Linked DNA regions of Homo sapiens: regions 2, 3 and 4 are each reported to be linked to region 1. Evidence: microRNA targets listed by miRTarBase, many of them from high-throughput screens and not tested one by one. Region 1 holds a microRNA gene; each other region holds the end of a gene's coding sequence.
Evidence for each region. The annotated mature microRNA hsa-miR-4768-3p reads CCAGGAGAUCCAGAGAGAAU and lies in region 1 at 1,892-1,911, opposite strand. An mRNA with a match to its seed (bases 2 to 7 or 8) in the 3' UTR can be bound and repressed. Matches are read on the target gene's strand: a 7mer-m8 pairs with bases 2 to 8, a 7mer-A1 pairs with bases 2 to 7 and ends in A, and an 8mer does both.

Region 1 (3,160 bases):
AGATATCAAATGTAAAATACACAAGGGGTGCTTGATTTTTTAAAAAATATATTCTTAGGAAGTATTCCAACAAGAAAAGATGGTAGACCTCCAATGTGGGTCACAGCTGGCAGTCTGACCCCAAGAAGTTTGAACCCAGCCTCTATTATCTGTGCAAGACAGAACTGTACTTCTGCTTTGGAGTTAATCCCAGAAGAATTTATTTCTTTTCCAGCCCTTCACATAGCTTGTGCTTTATGGTGGCAGACTCAATGGACCAAACCTTCAGCTGTGGGAATCATGGCTTCAGCCATTGAACACACACAGCCCAGTCAGCTGGCAGAGTGGACAATAAACCTACAAACACTCAGCAAGTCACTCAGGTTCTTGATTCAAGAGTAAATGGCTTCATAAACACAATCATAACAACAGCGGCATGAGTTGGTGCATGTCAATGTGTACATTTCGGTAGAGAGGGCCCAGAGACACGTATTTTGGCAGATGCTAGGTCTTGGCAAGACTGTAAGCAAAATCACAAAGCAGCCCAAGTCTGTGGTCAGTCCCAACTTCCTATCAGTACACCTTTTCCATCCAGGCACCCCATAAAGGTGGATTTGGTCTCTTCCACATTCCATTAAGTGTAGCCTCAATTCCCAACAAAAACCCACACCACACCTCTTTTAAGGAATTTTATAGGAAAACTTTACCTAAACATGTATCCCCAAATCCTCTGAACTAGCAAAATCCTATTCAGGTTTATCTCCATGTCAGAGAGATGGGAAATATATCAAGTTCTGTCAGCAGGTCAGCCAGGCCGAGCATGCCAAGTGATCTGGGGTTATAGACAGCAGATTAATCTCAAAGCTGGAACTTCTTTAAGACCAGGAAGTAGCCCCTTTTCTGATTAAAAGACAAGTCAATAATTCTGGGTCCTTGGTCCACCACTGTGATATGTCCCTTGCAAAACAGGCACTCTCAGGCAGTCTTCCCTGCAGAGCAACCATGATGGATACTGACTACTGACTTGAAAGTGCTTTGACACCCCCAGATGGAAGGAACTAATCAATTATGCTTCTCACTTAGAGGCACCCTGCTCATTCATGCTGAAGATAGAAGTCCAGATAAAAGTAGAATTACTGGGAGTCCAAGATCCAGAAAGAAAATGAGAGAGCTCAGCTGGTCACTGTGAATGATGTGCATGTGCCCCAAGCCTTTGAAACACATGACATTTTCCAGCAGCCAAGCACTCATCAAATTGCAGAATGTCGAAGCTACAAGGAAACTTAGCAATTATTTAATGATCTAAATTACTTTTATTATAGTGAAGAGGAAGCTGAGGCCTAGAGAGGTAAAATAACCTGTCATATAGCTGAGCAGCGAAAGGAACAGACTCATTACCCTAGTGATCTCCTGTCACACAACCCATCTCATGAAGCTCTCTCTCAGGTCGAGTTTAATAGATGAGAGAACAAGGGGTAGTCTGCCTATGCAAAGCAGGTACACACAATGAGATCAGAGCAAAGGGGATTTCCTCCCCTGAAGCTAAACAGCCCCCATAAGTGATGTTACGTGTTAGGATAATTTCCTTGGTGTGCTGGAAGATGTTTCACAAGCATGGGTGGTGGGGACCCTTATTTGCCATATTTGCCAATTTCTATAGTGTAAATACTCTCATCATGGCAGATTTCAAGCTACCAACTTGATGCCACTGAACAGCAGTTGGGGAGAGATATGTGCAATCAGCTCTTGTGAGCTGATAGAAGCTGGATCCTCCACACCACTGGAATTTCTGAGAAGTCTACATCACGGGTTTAGGAATGAAATAACTTTCTGGCCCACAAGAATAAAACACCCAGGTTTATGAGGAAAATCCTAGCAGCACACACTCTAGGTTTCACTCACTGAAACTCTGATTCTCTCTGGATCTCCTGGACATCACAGTTCCCATATCCATGGGATCCAGAGAGAATCAAAGTTTGGAGAAGTTACTTGGTCCATCATGTCTGTATCTCTGGGTAGTATCCTACCTAATTGATCCAAGGCAGGAGCACTGAGAGGTGGAATCCACATTCCCTATCTTAATGCTTTTGGCAACCAAGCATTCCTTTCCCAGCAGTAACAGGATCCAGTTTCCAAGGTGATATGTGAGCTCAGAGCCCCATCTTTACCAACGTCAAAGGCAGTGCTTGGATTCAGCTTCAGGTAGGCCTCCTCTGTTCATGTAAGCAGGAAGGAAAACATGTAAAACTGAATTCCTCCTCAATTTCTTTCTTTCTTTCTTTCTTTCTTTTTTTTTTTTTTTTTTTTTTTTTTTTTTTTTTTTTTTTTTTTTTTTTGGCTGAGAAGAGTTCCAAGGCTGGGGCAGCAACTCATCAGGAAAAGTTCTTAGCCTGTGCTTTCTTTTTGCCAAACATTGATTTGCTAATAGAGAAAATAACTGGTGTATAAACAAAAGTGGTTGATGACATCCAAGGGTCTGGAGCAATTCCTCCACATCGTTCTGACAGCTAACAAATGGAACTAGCTCTTAGGGAGCATGTTTAAGGAACAGCTGGAATATGTAACGGACATTTTTCTGTGAATTTGACAGGTCAAGCTCCATCACGGTTGAGCTACGCTCACCGGACGTGGATCAGAATGAACTCTGCCATTCCTCAGAAGGTTGCCAAGAGGGCTTTGAAGAGAAGGGAATCCAAGGAACTCAGTTTCAGACATGGAGAAGAATAAAGACCAGACAAATCATGAGCAAACCTGATTTAAAGAGAAAGATCTATAAATACCAGTTGCTCAGCTTTCTCCCTGGTTTCCTGACCCTATGATGAGCTCCACCAAAATTAAGTAAGTATAGCCCTTTCCAGAGGGTCACTTGGAGGGAAGATCCTGCCATATGTCGCCTATTGGTCTTTAGCCTCACCACCACCCCAACATCTGATAAAGTCAACAGACGTGAGTTCCTAAAGGATACAGAATATACAAGATACTTTCCCTTATACAAGGATTCACTCTAAGCATCGTTAAAATGGCAAACTCACCTGGGACCCCTAAGATAACCTGATTTACCAAAATCTGGTTTATCCTTAGCATATGAGGAGCACATCCATTCTCTAAAGCAAGGAGATTTTCAAGATCAATGAGCAGAGAAACTTCTCAAAAGAATTTTATAGAATTTTTTAAGATAACA
Region 2 (3,160 bases), not on the chromosome of region 1:
CTTGGCTCTACAACCTCCGCCTCCTGCGCTCAAGCAATCCTCCCACCTCAGCCTCTTGAGTAGCCAGGACTACAGGCATGCCCCACCACACCCAGCTAATTTTTGTATTTTTGTAGAGACAGGGTTTTGTCATGTTGCCCAGGCTGGTCTTGAACTCCTGAGCTCAAGCAATGTGCCCGCCTCGGCCTCCCAAAGTGCTACGATTACAGGCGAGAGGCACTGCACCCAGCCCATGGTTTCCTAACACTGCCTCACTTTGATCTTGTGTGAAATTGTGACTCAGTGCTGAGCTTTAGACCCAGATAAATGTTGAGGGGGAATACAGAAGAGAATTGACCTTTCTGAACAGCTCAACCTAGTTTCTAAAGGCAAGATTTTACTCCAGCGACATGTACTGGTGACCATGATGTCACTCTGTGAGCTGGCCTCACCAGTAACCCAAACACAACGCTGAGGAAGGAGACCATTTCCCACCAACAGCACACACCTATGGCTGGGGTGGCCAATGATGGGGCACCAATAAGGATAAGAGTCTTTGGCGGCTTTCTTTTTTTGAGCCCATATTTTATCAATTTAAAGCATGAGAGCAGCAGAGATGGAGAGTAGAGAAAAAAACAGGTTTCCCAAGAACTCTGGCAAGAATGTTGCTACTTGGTGAAGGAATGGTTATCATTAGTGCACCTGTCTTAAATCCTGAAATGCATCTTGGGACCTGCAGTTCAATATTTTGAAGACTACAAAGGTAGCAGTGGCTGTTGGCCTCTCCAGGTCCCTGCTGGGTCCCAGAGATGAGAAAGGGTGGAGTTAGTAAAAGAGGAGGCTGCCCCTTAAAGGACAGTTTGGTTTGGAGGGAAATCCCAATCCGTGCAGCTGAAAGATTCCCTGCAGGCCCCTGGGGACCTGCTGTCACCTCCCCAGTGTTCCTGACTGGTCTGAGAGGTGTGCTCCAGAACCCACGATAAGACCGAGTTCTCTAGAAACTGCCTCTATCTCTGAGTCTGTACTATGGCTTATTTCTGACAGAATGAAACTTTTGTATCAAAGGAGCTTCAGCTAAAGTTGAATGTTTTTCTTTCTCAGTTTTTATGGCCTTATTAAACATGTTTAGCTAGCCAAAGCTTCCTCCTCCTCACCATGCTCAGTGTTAGCATGGTGGTGAGGCTATAAAGAGGCACCACAGGAAGGAGCCTGCACTTCCCCCATGGGATTTAAAAAAGAACCAATTTGGGCCATGCTTGGTGCATCTAGCATAATCTTGGGACAAATCCACATGATTCAGGTCAAAGTTTTGGAGTTAATTCTCCCATTATTATTTGCTCCTTTCCAAAGCCTTAATGTGAAATTCAGTCAGGGTCTGGCCATGGTGGCAGGTGTCCCTACACTCTTTCATTCAGAGAAGGAGCAGCTGTGAATACACCACTGCAGTATTTCTAATGACATCTTGAGCCATAAACAACATAACTGCACTACCATATATCCAGGCAGTAGGAGTGTTCAACGTTTTCTAGTGTTTCTGTGAAACACTAAATATTGGATTAGTTTGAAATGCAATTGACCCCAGGAGTAGGCTCAATAAGGTCATTCTGATTAATGAAAATGTGAAAAAAGGTGACATGTACAAGGAAACACTGCTGTTCATATTCTTGAAATAGACTTTTCTTTAAGACAAAAGTAATGACATTTGGTTCATTTTCACAAATTGCACACTGGGTGAGATCATACAATTACTGCAGGGAACTGTAGGCAAGCAATTTGGTCATAGGAATTTGTTTCTTTGTCTTGTTTTAAATGAAAAAGCTATATGAAATGCATAGCTTTGATTAACCTAAAGATACAGTTTCCTTCTTTGTAAAACTCCAGATTTAGGATGCTGGCAAAGGCAGTGCTGGCAAAGTATTTAATGCACATGGAAATGCTATTCTATTTTGGCTTCCAGAAGTAGCCCTAGTAAATTCTATGCACCAATGCATTGGCTAATAATAATTTCAGTTTTACTATAAATTATCTAAATGTCACTTAAGTACTTAAGAAGTAGCGCTCGCTCCTTTCTAGAAGCTGTCTAAGGCAGCTGATGCGTAAAGCACCTCATCTAGACCTCCAACTAGTTCAGCAGTTCAATCTGTGCCCCTCAGCCACAGGACTGCCCTCAGTATCCCTCACTACACAGCTCCCCTCTCCTGGGGACTTTTCATGTTCATTTCTGCCTTGTCAAAGGCAGTCCAGGCAAGGAAGAGAAACGTCAGAAACACGATCGTCAAGGACTGCTCCGTGTAGCAATCTCAATTCTAAGAATAATTACATGGGTGTGAGGAACACAAAAATCCCACCTCACAGAAGATAAATGAGTTGCACTCACACTGCCAACTCTTCAGGGATTATCCCCACTATCTCCTCAGAAAGCATGCTTTCTTTGTTATATCATCTACTGCTCTGTTGGCCAGACTTTCATTCACACTATGTTAACTTTCATCTCAATCATCTCAGCCTTCATGTGATTTGCTTATTGTGTTTCTCTAGTTTTCACTGAACACACAGTGCAAACAAAGGCAAAGACTGAAGCAATCATTTCAAAAACAAGAGCTCACACTACAAACACACATGAGCATCACATATTGAAACGTAGGCTTTCTCTTGTCTTTATTCTGGGGAGGAGGAATCCTCCTCATCATCTTCCTCATCTTCATCATTGAACGAACAGGGGGTCTCGCCTCGGGACTCGGAGCAGTGAGAGGCCGCACTGCTGGACTGGTGACTGTTTGGGGCCAGGAACTGCCCAGTTGCTAAGGCCACTTCTGCATCCAAGCATAACCCTTGGTTTACACTAGCAAACAATTAAAAACACACAGGCTCATTAATGTGGTATAAACAGTTTTGTAAAACATAGGAATAAAAACAGGAAGGAGGTGCCATTGGTGAGATCTGCCACAAACCTGCTCAGCAGGACCTGTGCTGGCAGTAACATGACCCCGGCTCACCCCTACACAGACAGTCAGGGCTCTGGGGTTTGCCTTTCTAACCCTGAAAAAAATACGTACCTTGACTGGGGTAAGGTGGCACCAGTGGTCAGGTCTAAATTTGAAACTGATTGGGTAGAGTTCAGAAGTAGTCCCTGATTTAACCAAGAAGGTCCTGTGGAGATATCTAAAGGAAAAAATGAGAA
Region 3 (3,160 bases), not on the chromosome of region 1:
GAAAAACCTTTCGAGTGCAAAGAGTGTGGGAAAGCCTTTAGCAATAGGGCAGACCTCATTCGCCACTTCAGCATCCACACTGGAGAGAAGCCCTATGAGTGCATGGAGTGTGGAAAGGCCTTCAACCGCAGGTCAGGCCTCACAAGGCACCAGCGGATTCATAGTGGAGAGAAGCCCTATGAATGCATCGAGTGTGGGAAAACATTTTGCTGGAGCACAAACCTCATTCGACACTCTATCATCCACACTGGAGAGAAGCCGTATGAGTGCAGTGAATGTGGAAAGGCCTTCAGTCGCAGCTCGTCCCTCACTCAGCATCAAAGGATGCATACTGGGAGAAATCCTATCAGTGTAACAGATGTGGGAAGACCTTTTACAAGTGGGCAGACCTCAGTCAACATCCAAGAACTTTTATTGGGGAAAAACTTTTTGAATGTCACCACTGAGGAAAATCTTTTGCAAGAGGAAGCATCTTACATGGCATCTGATCGTACATACCAAAGAGAAACCCCACAAGTGTCTTCACTGTGAGAAAACCTTCTGTTGCCAAATGTCATTTGTCACCTAAGGAGTCATATTAGAAAATCACGCAGCTTAGAGCCTTATTCTCCATCCGAATTCATCCTGGAAAAACACCCAGTGGTTATTACGCACTTGGGAAAACCTTTAGCTCCATCTTTCTCATTAGTTTACAGTGCAATGTTATCTCAGGAATTTTTATAAACAGAAAGAGGTGACATAGAAAAGAAAATGAAATGCAGACACTGCTTTTATACTGTTGTCTTGTATGTACATTTCTGTCCTGTGTCAGGAAAGTTAGTAAGGGAAGGTCTGGAAACTTACTCAATGTCTTTGTTCTACAACATTGTCTCTTCTTAAGAAGCATTGTTTTTATGAGAAATAATGAAGCCTTGAGTTATGAAATACTTTTATATTTAAGGATTAAAAGAAACATGAATGCGCACATTTTATTGTACCACTTAATACTGTTTAGGTCTTTGATTTTTTAAAAAAATTCTTTTTTAATGGGTTTTAAACACTAACACTGAGAATTTTTCTTGATTCCCATCTGTTGGTTTACTTGATTGCTATAGCTGTATGGTAAATCTCAAAATTAGGTAATGTGATTTCTTTTTTCTTACTATTTTTATTTAAAATTCATTTAGCATTCCTAGTTTGACTTTCCATATACACTTTAGGATTGGTTTTTCTGTTTTTCAAATATTCTTGCTTGGATTTTGATAGAAATTGAGTTAAATCTATAGATCAATGTGTTGGAAATTGGCATCTTAGTCTTCCAATTCATGAACATAGCCTATCTTTTCATTATTTAAATTTTCTTTGATATATTTCATTACTGTTTTATAGTTTACACAGTATAACTCCTGCACATTTAAAATAAGAATTATAGCTGCATAGTTTTTTGAGTGATTGTAAATGGCATTGATATTTAAAGTTTCAATATTCACATGATGTTGGCTAGTATACAGAAACATTATTTTTTCAATCTTATTTTGCTGTCTTGCAACCTTCCTAAACTCATTATTTCTTGCCATTTCTTTTGGGAGAATCCTTAGGATTTTAAATATAGAAATGTCATTTGCAATTTGGGACAGTTTTATTTCTTGCTTCCCATCTGTATACCTTTTATTTGCTTTTCTCATGTTATTGTACTAGGTAGGATTTCCAGTGTGATGTTGAATACGAATAGTGACAAGTTATCCATGCCTTGTTCCTGATATTAGGGGGAAATGTTCAGTTTCTCATTATTATGATGTTGAAAGTTGCTTCCAAAGAGTTTCTCTATCGAGTTTAGAAAGTTTCCCTCTATTCCTAATTTGCTGGGATTTTTTTGGTTATTATTAATAAGTGTTGAATTTTGTCATATGCTTTTTCTCCACCAATTGATTTAATTATGTGATGTTACTTCTATAGTCAGTTGATATGATGTGTTACCTTGATTGAGTTTCAAGTATTGAACCAGCCTCACATCTTTGTGATAAGCCCTACTTGATCATGGAGTATAATTTTGTTTGTGTACTATGCTACAGTATTTCATTTGCTAGTATTTTGTTGAGGAAGCTTTCCTCTGATTTCATGAGTGATAATCTGTAGTTTTCTTTCTTCAACTGTTACTGTTTGGTTTTGATGTCTAGATGATAACTAACCTCCTAACATGAATTGGAAGGAATTCTCTTCTGTTTTTTTGGAAGATCATGTGTAGAATTGGTGTTATTTGTTCCTTTAATGTTTGGTAGCTTTCTCCAGTGAAGAAGTGGGACCTGGAGATTTTCCTTTTGAATGCTTTTTAATTATGTATTTATTTTATTTAATAGGTATAGAACTATTCAGAGTATTTCATATTGGATGAATTTTTATAGATTTTCTTAAGGAAGTGTTCATTTTATGTAAATGTTCTAATTTGTAGCATTCTTTGAAATATTTCCTTTTATCCTCTTGATGGCAGCAGGATCTGTACTTATGTTCCTTGTTGTATTCTTGATATTGGAAATGTATCACTTATTATTGTCAGTCTTTGTAGACATATGTCAATTTCATTGATCATTTCAAAGAAATAGCACTTTATATCACTGATTTTTCTCCAGTCTCTGTTCTTAATTTCACTGATATCTGCTCTGATGTGTATTGTATCCTTTCTCCTACTTGCTCTGGTTGTATTTGACTCAGTGGTTTCCTGACGTGGATGTTTAGGTTATTGATTTGAGGCTTTTTTTCTTTTTTAATATAAGCTTTAAGTTCTATACATTTTTCTTACACTGCTGTTAGTTTCATCCCACAAGTCTTAATATGCTTTTGATTATCTTACTCAGTTCTAAGATTGCCTGATTCCTTTTGAGACATCTTCTCTAACCCAGGAATTATTTAGAAGTATATTGTTTAATAGTGTTTGGAGTATTCCCTGCTATTTGTTATTGATTTCTAATTTGTTTTGCATTTGATGTTACTGTTGAAATTTGTTGACTTTTTTTCCTTATGACCCAGGATATAGGCTGTCTTGTTTTACATAGCTGCTTGAAAAGAATGTGTGTTCTCGGTCATTTGGTGGAGTTTCTGTAAAAGTTTGTATGATCCTGTTAGTTGGTGGTGTTATTTAGGTCTCCTGTATCCTTGCTGATTTTCTGTCTAGTATTTCTATCAA
Region 4 (3,160 bases), not on the chromosome of region 1:
ATGGCATTTCCATTAACGAAAATAGGAGCTTTTTGAATAGGATTGTTCAAAATTAGATACAAATGTTCTCAGCTAAAGGTCTCACATATTCAGAAGTTTGGGTGCCTTTTGTGATAGCTCTTGTATCATTTGATAATATTGATTTTTTTGAAAAAGGCAGGCTATTTACAAGGCAAAGAGTTTTTGTTTTGTTTTGTTTTGTTTTTGAGATGGAGTCTTGCTCTGTCGCCCAGGCTGGAGTGCAGTGGCGCGATCTCGGCTCACTGCAAGCTCTGCCTCCTGGGTTCACGCCATTCTCCGGCCTCAGCCTCCTGAGTAGCTGGGACTACAGGCACCCGCCACCACACCTGGCTAATTTTTTTTTGTATTTTTAGTAGAGACGGGGTTTCACCATGTTAGCCAGGATGGTCTCGATCTCCTGACCTTGTGATCCGCCCGCCTCGGCCTCCAAAAGTGCTGGGATTATAGGCATGAGCCACCATACCCAGCAGGAGTTTTTAACTTTCACTTTCTCAAGTAGAGAAGGCCCTCAACTGTAAACCCCTTTACCCTAGTCTCTGGGAAATATTCCTGCCCACCAAGCACTCTATCCCCCCCAGCCCCCAGCTCCACTGGGTTATTCTAGGGTGAGGGAGCGGACATGATCATCCAGTAGCGTCTGACCAGCCGGAAGGCAAAAGAGACAAGCAAAAGTTCTGTGTTACCCAGGAGAGCTCAGCTGTCCAGAAATAATTAGAGCTACAGCCACACGTGGTTCAAGGAAATGTGGTTGTCAGAGAGAGACAGAGATCTGCCAAGCCATCTCCTCTTCAACTGCCTGGGCGGAGGGGGCTGCAGCCCACATTTTAGAGACACAGTATTGTTTGCAGTTGATTTAGAACTTGAGCTGGAAGAAGTCCCCCATCATGACCTGCACACCATTAGAAGAAAGTGTTGTCTCCAACAAGCTCAGCCACAATGTTGGCTGCCAACGGTATGTCTTTCCCCACTCATTGGAAAGGAGATTATCACACTAAAGCATTGAGATGAATTCCGATGAACAAAGGTAGTCAGACCGTTAGGCTGGACTGTCACTAGGACATGATGACAATGAATAAACTTAGGCTCTTGCAATGTCCATCACTGACATGTTTTAATAAGAGTTGAACGCACAAATTGGCTTCCTTGCAATGTTTACTTCAAGCAGTAGGTCTGTCTGCTCTGGCCTTTGATGGGATCTGCCAGCTTCCTCCCTCCTTGTCTATGTCCCCTGCCTTCACCATGGGAAAAAAGGCTCCAGTAAACCAAATCCCAGAAGTGATGTTGCCTGCGGAGACCAACTCAAAACCAACTGGCCTCCCACTGCTTCCTTTGAAAACATATACATTTCACACACCTGAGTCCTCCCACCCCTCTCCACTCCACGGCAGGCTCCATGAATGGAACTCCAGGGGCTGCCTTTGTGTAATGATCAAGACGTCCCTGGACAGAGGAGCAGCTTCGCATCAGGGAATCCTGGTCCCCTGATCCCCATGGGATGAGATGGTGGGTGTAGCATCCTTCTGGTTTCTCTGCCCATTCAGCTGTCTACCCATGCACAAAACCCAAAGCCCTGGATTTTGGATTTTGTACCTGCAAACCTGAGTAAACTTTTTCCCCTCAAGAGTCATCATTCAGGCCGGGTGCAGTGGCTCCCACCTGTAATCTCAGCACTGTGGGAGGCCGAGGCGGGTGGATCACTTGAGGTCAGGAGTTCGAGACCAGCCTGGCCAACATGGTGAAACCCTGTCTCTACTAAAAAGTACAGGTGGGCACCTGTAATCCCAGCTACTCGGGAGGCTGAGACAGGAGAATTGCTTGAACCCGGGAGGCAGAGTTGCAGTGAGCCGAGATCACGCTACTGCACTCCAGCCTGGGCGACAGATCAAGACTCCGTCTCAAAAAACAATAAAAGTCACCATTCAGCCTGACCAAGGAGGGGGCCAGGAAAGAAGTCGGAACCGTGGCCTTCGCTGCTTCAGAAGGGGAGGCCCGTGCTCTGACTTCAGCTTGATTCACTTTGGCCTCAGTCCTCAGTTCCCAGGGGGTAACGGCGTTCTGAGGTTGTCACCTGGTGCAAGACCAGCTGTCCCCAGGGACACATCTGGATCTCTTGGTGCCAACAACGGCAACTCCAGAGGGGGCTGGGTGGGGGCATGTGGCTCCAGTTTGAATGCACCATGTCCATCTGCCAGAGAATCCACTGGTCAGGCTCTAGGGAGGCAAACCGGGGGGCCCCTGCCAGGAAATAGCTGCTCAGACCACACCTAGATCGCCTGCAATTTCAAAGAAGAAAGCCTGGGGCTGTGAGTGTGGGAGAAACCTACTGAACAGGTCCGGTGGGTGGACAGCAGGTGTCACATGGGCCTGAGCCTGGACGGTATCTACAGAGAGATATTTTGGTTGTTCACTGAGGGTTTGGCCGGGTGACTCTGGGTGGTGTCTGATTGGTTGCTGGCATTACCAGACCCTCCTAATATGGGTAGTCTTCCCATGTAGATCCACAGGTTATGAACAAAGCTTTCACCACATATACAGAGAACCCCCTAGAGCAAACATCTCCCCATCCCTGGGTGGACCTCAATGAAGATGAGCAAACTGAGTCAAGACACAAAACCCTGTTGGTCCAGGTCATACTCTTGGGTGAGTTCTTGATGTCGGCAGTGACAATCAGTGCCCCAGTTGGGGCCTGCCAGCCCCCCAAGCTCTGCAGCCTCAAAGACCAGCTCAGTCCCCCATCGGTCACTATTCCTGAGAGCCAGAGTTCGACCTGGTAACACCTGCACCGTGCATTCCTCGGCCGACCATCTCCTGGCCCCACTCCCGGTGGCTGGACTCCTGCAGTCCTCGGCCTTTGGTCTCAATGGGCAAAAAGCAGGAGGCCAGGGCAGCCAGGAGGCAGCAGCCACTGTAAACTGCCAGAGTCAGGTACACAGAGGATTCCAGCATCACCTAGGGGAAGGAGACACGGGTCGGTGAAAGCATCCCTTCTGAAGCACAGACATCGCCAACCATCAAATAGTATTAGTAACATCAGGCCCTCTCGTGATATCTGCTTGCTAAAAAGGATCTGGTGATTCCCTCCTCTCCCCCTTTGTCCCTCTCTCTCCTTGTGACACGCCTGCCCCTCCTTTGCCTTCCT

Region 2: miRTarBase lists TFDP2 as a target of hsa-miR-4768-3p. The part of its 3' UTR that is shown has no 7-base or 8-base seed match.
Region 3: the mRNA of ZNF805 is a reported target of hsa-miR-4768-3p. Seed matches in the 3' UTR shown: 7mer-m8 at 3,118-3,124.
Region 4: miRTarBase lists SVOP as a target of hsa-miR-4768-3p. Seed matches in the 3' UTR shown: 7mer-m8 at 1,825-1,831, 7mer-A1 at 1,726-1,732 and 7mer-m8 at 706-712.

The regions. Positions count from the first base shown.
Region 1 is chrX:17,424,678-17,427,837 of GRCh38, reverse strand. It overlaps MIR4768 (microRNA 4768), which reads right to left and starts at 1,957; the gene lies at 1,884-1,957. All of the region lies in intron 1 of NHS (NHS actin remodeling regulator), which reads right to left.
Region 2 is chr3:141,949,876-141,953,035 of GRCh38, forward strand. TFDP2 (transcription factor Dp-2) reads right to left here. Exons shown (of 13, transcript NM_001178139.2): 12 at 3,036-3,141; 13 at 1-2,821. The coding sequence ends at 2,638. Among named protein-coding and RNA genes, the nearest start is that of ATP1B3, 75 kb to the left of the region's middle.
Region 3 is chr19:57,254,173-57,257,332 of GRCh38, forward strand. It overlaps ZNF805 (zinc finger protein 805), which reads left to right. Exons shown (of 4, transcript NM_001023563.4): 4 at 1-3,160. The coding sequence ends at 531. Among named protein-coding and RNA genes, the nearest start is that of ZNF805, 15 kb to the left of the region's middle.
Region 4 is chr12:108,909,772-108,912,931 of GRCh38, forward strand. SVOP (SV2 related protein) reads right to left here. Exons shown (of 16, transcript NM_018711.5): 16 at 1-2,970. The coding sequence ends at 2,764. Among named protein-coding and RNA genes, the nearest start is that of DAO, 31 kb to the left of the region's middle.